Linked DNA regions of Homo sapiens. The protein of the gene in region 1 purifies or fractionates together with the protein of each later gene. This does not show direct contact. Each region holds a gene or a part of one and is shown on either strand. Other genes may lie near its edges.

Region 1 (3,522 bases):
ACGTTTTTTCACCTCACATTTTCTAAATCATAAATATACTGTACTAACTCAAGGACATCACTCATGAACAGTTTGAACATCCAAAATTAAATAGTCACTAGACAGTCAAAAGGTTCAAATCTCATGGCTTGGTTTTTACCAGCACAAACAAGAAAGTCAGGCATGTCTATAGGAGACAAATCAAATCCCACAGTGGAAAGTTGGAGAAGCAGACCCCTTACAATAAGCATATCCTCATTTACCTTGTCACCAACCTCCGTTGCCCACTATAGATTCCTAGTTTTGTACCCAGCTTCTGCCATGGTCATCCTAATTCCATAATATCTCAACATATGGGGATCTCATTAATTTATTTTTATTTTTTATTATTTGAGATGGAGTCTCGCTCTGTCACCCAGGCTGGAGTGCAGTGGTGCAATCTCGGCTCACCGGAACCCTCCACCTCCCGGTTTCCAGTGATTCTCTTGCCTCAGCCTCCTGAGGAGCTGGGATTACAGACGCACAACACCATGCCTGGCTAATTTTTGTATTTTTAGTAGAGACAGGGTTTCACCATGTTGACCTGGCTGGTCTTGAACTCCAGACCTCAGGTGATCCGCTCAACTCGGTTTCCCAAAGTGCTGGGATTACAGGCATGAGCCATCGTGCCTGGCCCCATTAATTTAGATATGTTACCATTTTTTCTGGTCCTATATCCTTCAGATTCTTCCTTCCACTGCCCAGGTTCCTTGCTGAGATATCATCTGAGTCCAAACACCACTTTATTTAAAGAGATTCTCTTTTAGAAGGAGAGCAGCAAAGGGTCAATAATAGTCAATGCAGAAATGCTATTCACTGAAGGCTGAACTTGAACTGGGAACATCGGTATTGCTTAATCCCAAAATAAAAGCAGCCTGAGATCATATCCTACCAAATCTATTTGATTCATGCCCTTAATGAGCAGCTGAACTCATATCCTTTCTCCAAACCACTAGTTTTTCTCTAGGGGCTAACTACTTACTAGATATAAAACTAAGACCAAATTCTGACACTTGCTCTGCCACAGGTGGCACCTCAGAGCACTGGCCATGCCCCACAAAGCCTGTGCTCCTTCTCTGAAGCCACTGAGTTGCTACCTGCCATCCAGCCCTACTCTATTTTTCACATCAGTGAGAACAGAGGTGCTGGAAAGTAGCCCACACACCTGCCTCCTGTCCCAAGCCTTTGATTGACGCAGAGAACTTGTAGCTATTAGAACTAGACAGGACTGAATTTTCTCTTAAACCTCCTTTGATTAGTGTCTCAGAAACCATCCCTGACACAAGCCACACTGTTTTCACAGTAGGACCCAGTATGTTTAGCGTAGCTGTTGGGCGATGAAATGTGGTCATCTGGGATGAGACTTGGAGAAGTCAGTAAGAAGCTGTGGATCAGGCCCGCCCCTACCTCTTAGTGGGATTACATCAACACGAAGTAAATGAACCATCAGGCATTTTAAAGACTGCATTCCAAGACTGCATTCACTTGAACCTTTGATTTTGCCAGGAGTGGAAAGGGAGTGGCGGGCATGCACTTGTATAATTAAAGAAACATTTGGATGTATGACTTAGTTGGAGATTATTTAGACATGAAAGTAGTAGGTTTTTTTATTTATGTATTCATTTCTGGCCAAAATACAGCTATGATTTACATATCTGAATTTACAGAGCCAGTTTAATATAAATTTGATGGCCATCCATATTTACTGCAGTATTTTCCCAATGTGGGAAGCAGGTACAGCCTGTGCTTCCCTGCTTCCCCTGTTAAGTTTCCCCTGTGAGGGAATGAAATCTCCCAGCATCTGATCCCAGGCAGAAGAGGGTTCCTAAATGTACCCAATGAGGACTACTAGCCTCTGGTGAATCCTATACAGAACAAAGTTCAAATTCAAATTTTATTTCCAAATCAATTCTTTCTTGGGGCTAACTGAAGACAGAGAAAGAAAACTGAAAGAGAGAAGCGTTGAATTATTCTAGGTTGTCAATTTTTAATTTTCTGGTGCAGAAATTTTTAAACCCAAGATTACGTTTTTAGAAGTCACTGAAACTGGGCCGGGCGCAGTGGCTCACGCCTGTAATCCCAGCACTTTGGGAGGCCGAGGTGGGTGGATCACGGAGTCAGGAGTTCGAGACCAGCCTGGCCACCATGGTGAAACCCCGTCTCTACTAAAGATACAGACTCTGCTGAGTACTTTACATACATTACCATACTTAATTCAATCAGACAGGCAGGTAGGTTATTGTTCTCCCATTGTGCAGATTAGGAAACCGAGTCTCAAAAAAGGTTAGGCCATGTGCCAGGGCCACACATTTAGAAGGTGGCAGGGCTAGAATTTGAACGCAGGTCTGCTAGAAAACAAAGCCAGAGCAGAGCCTTCAAACAGTACTCTACGTGGGACCCCAAAACACTTTCTATGTCCTGAATGCTCTATTTGTATTCTTTCATTTTCTGTGCCCATCATTTTTGCTGACTAATTACCAAATTCCAGCTTCTCTGAAATTTGATACTTAATACCATTGGCAGATATGTTTTTTAAGAAAGTAAAAGGTGCCTTTAATGTTTTTTAAGAAAGTAAAAGGTGCCTTTAAGTTGACTTAATTAACACACAGTCTGTTAAGTATTAAAAAAACAAAGATTAGCTCTTAAAAAAATCAGTTTTAAAAATTCTACTTTATAAAAATCTTTTCATTAAAGAATAAATTCTACAAACAACTTCTGAAAGCTTCAGCATATTACTGCTAAACATTAGAGTCAACATTTTAGGATGACGTGACTTAAAACAGTGAAAAATTAAACCCTCATTCATAGATTAAAATGCAAATACTGACAAGCCTTTAATTACAGCTTCAGAACTCTGATAAATTTACAGCAATTACACTTTGCGTTAGATTAGGTGTCTTGGCAGCACAAATGATAAACAAATTTTTAAAAAGCTTACAAAGGGACAAAAAGGGACAATATTTTAGCCAGTTCCATTTTCATCACTGGTAGTCCTTCTACATTTTGCCTCTCAAAACCCGGAAGCTGCCTTGGAACGTGAAAAGACCCTCTATGGATGAAGCTTGCAACTATTTACACACATTCAATCTAATTAGGGGACCTGGTGGCTGGATAAGCATGCTAAGTGCCCACTCATCCCAAAAGAGCCTAGTAGTCTCTCAGCCTTCTCTAGCCTAATTTTTCCTGTTATCAGGTCAGGCAAACAAACTACATTCTTCTATCTCCAAGGGCAAAGAAAACAAGCTAATTCAATTTTCTTGATAATATTTATATGGGCTTAATTTGCATGCCAAAATGGATAGAAAACAAAGTCACTCGTGAATAAAGGGGTGGTTGTATTAGACCCTCAGCCTTTCCTGCACGAGTGGTTTGGCACCATCAGGAAGAGCGTTCATCAGCACTCAGAGAGAACTTCCCGTATGGACAGCACTCAGAGAGCACGTCCTGTGTGGGCAGCATTCAGGGAGGACTTCCTCTATGGATAGCAATCAGGGAGCACTTCCT
Region 2 (3,522 bases), on another chromosome or scaffold:
CTCTCAGAACCTTCATACCCATCTTATGCTCCCCTAATAAATTTACATCTAAGTCCTCCAATGACTGATGTTAAAGCAATGTGGCCAAAGCAGTGGCACATTACCAGAGACTAACCTTACTCTATCCAACTCACCTCTGTTTCATCTCCCAGTACATCTTCTTCATTTGCCTCCTCTTCAGCTAAAGAATATTAAAATATTCAGGTCAAGCCCTGCTACAAAACCATCTTGATCACTTACCAAGGTTAAAATTATAATCACTTTGCTTTCCCCCAAAAAATCCAACAGTGAAGGCAGAAACTGATGCACATAAAATCTGCTACATCTGGAGAAGATAAAACCAGATTTCTACCTAACATTAATTACAAATGTGAACTCCAGTTGGACTGAAGAACTAAATGTGAAGTCAAACTAGAGAATTAATTTTAAAAGTAATGTTGGGCCAGGCACCGTGGCTCTCTGTAATCCCAGCAATCTGGGAGGCAGAGGCAGGTGGATCGTTTGAACCTAGGAGTTCAAGCGACCAGCTTGGGGAACACAGCGAAACCCCGTCTTTACAAAAAACATAAAAAAATTAGCTGGGTGTGGGGGTGTGCGCCTATAGTCTTAGCTACTGGGGAGGCTGAAGTGGGAACATTACTTGAACCCAGAAGGCAGAGGCTGCAGTGAGCTGAGATCATGTCACTGCACTCCAGCCTGGGTGACAGAGCAAGACCCAGTCTTGAATAACAAACAAAAAAAGTATGTGGAAAAGTATCTTTGAGATTTAGTGGTGGGGAAAGATTTGTTTAAAAGAAAAACAACCCAGAACCAAAAGTAAGAGGTGAAAAATTGAAGATTTTTCAAAACTAAGTACTTCTACTTAAGGATAGCACAAAGAAACTTAAAAGACAAATGACAAGACATTTGTTTTTGTTGAGACAGAGTCTTACTCTGTCGCCCAGATAAAGTGCAATGGCACAATCACAGCTCCCTGCAGCCTCCCCCTCCTGGGCTCAAGGGATCCTCCTGCCTTAGCCTCCCAAGTAGGTAGGACTACAGGTGCACATCACCACACCCAGCTAATTTTATTATTTTTCTTAGAGATGGGATCTCACTATGCTGCCCAGACTGGTCTCAAACTCCGGGCCTCAAGAGATCATACCACCTTAGCCTCCCAAAGTGCTGAGTTACAGGCATGAACCACCCCGCACAGCCAAAGAAGATATTTGTGCCTAAAATCAACAAAACAATAGTTATTAGAATATAAAAGAAATGCCTGCAAGCCAACAGGCAAATTATGGGAACCTCAACAGAAAAATGGGCAAAGAAGAAACCCAAAGAATTGTGAAATGTTTAAACTTTTTTCATGGAGAACATAAAACAGCCAACAAATTAGCAAAACTTAGGCCACTTGATAGGACAGTGCCAAGTTTAGGTTTGTGAAGATACAAGAACCCTTATGTACTAGTAATGAGACTGCAGATCTACAGAGCAATTCTGGAAAATAATTTGGGAGTCCTTAGTCACATTAAGTATATATTTATGAATATTAATTAGCAATACCATTCTTGGGCATATACCCCAAAAAGACTTTCACAGGAACATAAGAGCATAAAATAAGTAGTTCATAATAATATACTATATACTATTAGTATATAGGATATAGTATACTATATCCTACAGGTTAAGCATCACCAATCTGAAAATTCAAAACCTAAAATGCTCCTAAATCTAAAACTTTCTGAAGGCTGATATGATACAAGTGGAAAACCCCACACCTAACCTCATGCAATGGGTCACAGTCAAAACTTTGTTTCATGTACAAAATTATTTTAAATACTGTATAAAACTACTTTCAGATATGTGGATAAGAAACAAATAAATTTTGTGTTTAGGCTTGGATCTCACCCCCAAGATATCTCATTATATATATACACAAATATTCCAAAATCCGAAAAAACTAAAATCTGAAACACTTCTAGTCCCAAGCATTTCAAATATATAACACTCAACCCATAGTATAATATATACTATATACTATTATATACATATAGTATACTATAAGTAGTATCACTTATAGTAGCAGAGGCTTGGTGGCAATAAAATTTTCTGTCACCGAGTGAATTAAGTAAAATGTGTGGTTATCCATCATTGAATGCTATGCAGGAATTAGAATCAACAGACTAGATAACTACACAGTCACATTCCACATGGACGCATCTTTAAAAAAAAAAAAACACAATACTTAGTGAAAAAAATGAGAAATAAAGCAAGGCTATGGCCAGTTATGTAATTACCAATTATATAAATGAAAACATTCTACAAAACAACACTACATAGTTTACCAGGAAAAACACCAAAAAAATACATTCAAACACATTAGAACGGGTGCCTAAATGGGTTGGGGAGAAAGTGAAATGAGGAATAGAAATAAAAGGGAATACGTAAATAAAAATTAGATAGAGGACTTGTACAACCTAAGATGTAGGTTGTACAAGATGGCTGGGCGCGGTGGCTCACAACTGTAATCCCAGCACTTTGGGAGGCTGAGGCGGGTGGCTCACCTGAGGTCAGGAATTCTAGACCAGCCCAACCAATATGGTGAAACCCCGTCTCTACTAAAAATACAAAAATCAGCCAGGCATGGTGGTGCTCGCCTGTAGTCCCAGCTGCTTGGGAGGCTGAGACAGGAGAATTGGTTGAAGCCGGGAGACAGAGGTTGCAATGAGCTGAAACTGCGTCACTGCACTCCAGCCTGGGCAACAGAGCAAGACTCCATCTCAAAAAAAAAAAAGAGAGAGTTTTCTTGATGCCGTTAATTAAGAGCTTACATTGCTAATGACCTGAAAAAAAAAAAAGAAATCTTTTCAGTGTCAAAGCCTGAAAATCCCCTCACTCACATCACTCCGCCTCCACAAAGTACTCACCATGTTCTTCAAGATATGCCTGGAGTCTGTGGATAAGATCTTGCTTTATTCCCTTGGTCTCCAAACCACGAGCAAGACATTCTTGCTTTAGTTCGGCAAGCTGAGGGGAAAAAAATAAAACTTTTCCTTAGTTAACAGGATGAACACCAGTGAATAAAATGGTAGTTCCCACAAGGAAAAGAAAAAAAGAAAATGAAGTTCCATCCCAAATTACTGCCCTTAATTCTACCAAGGCTCTAGGTCCACAAAGATGATCCATTTTCCTCTAACGATATTCAATATACAAGAGGAACTGCCTAACAGATGCTGAAGAATAAACATCACACTTTAATAAAAAACCTCATCTATTTGTATACCTACTAACTGTCACAAATCTCTAGTTATTTCTAAATATTCTGAGGGGGGAAAAAGGTTTTTTTCTTAAGACTACTGTGGCAGCCAGCATATTGGAAGAATGAACCTTCAAGTAGAAAATCCAATGATCTAAAAGCAGATTCTCCTTACCACTTATTATCCCAGATCCGTTATTACAATCTACCATATACATGCATACAGGTCTAACCACCATAGAATTAGGTAGATGCATTAGCTAATGTGAACAATGAATTGATTA

What was found. The genes of interacting proteins can lie anywhere in the genome.
Region 2: the proteins of RBMS1 (region 1) and SARNP fractionate together in Homo sapiens (co-fractionation; one large-scale study listed by BioGRID). This does not show direct contact.

The regions. Positions count from the first base shown.
Region 1 is NC_000002.12:160,368,286-160,371,807, forward strand, and holds part of RBMS1 (RNA-binding motif, single-stranded-interacting protein 1), read right to left. Parts: intron 1-3,522.
Region 2 is NC_000012.12:55,800,720-55,804,241, forward strand, and holds part of SARNP (SAP domain-containing ribonucleoprotein), read right to left. Parts: intron 3,010-3,522; coding exon 2,910-3,009; intron 182-2,909; coding exon 135-181; intron 1-134. UniProt on the Homo sapiens protein: Binds both single-stranded and double-stranded DNA with higher affinity for the single-stranded form. Specifically binds to scaffold/matrix attachment region DNA. Also binds single-stranded RNA. Enhances RNA unwinding activity of DDX39A.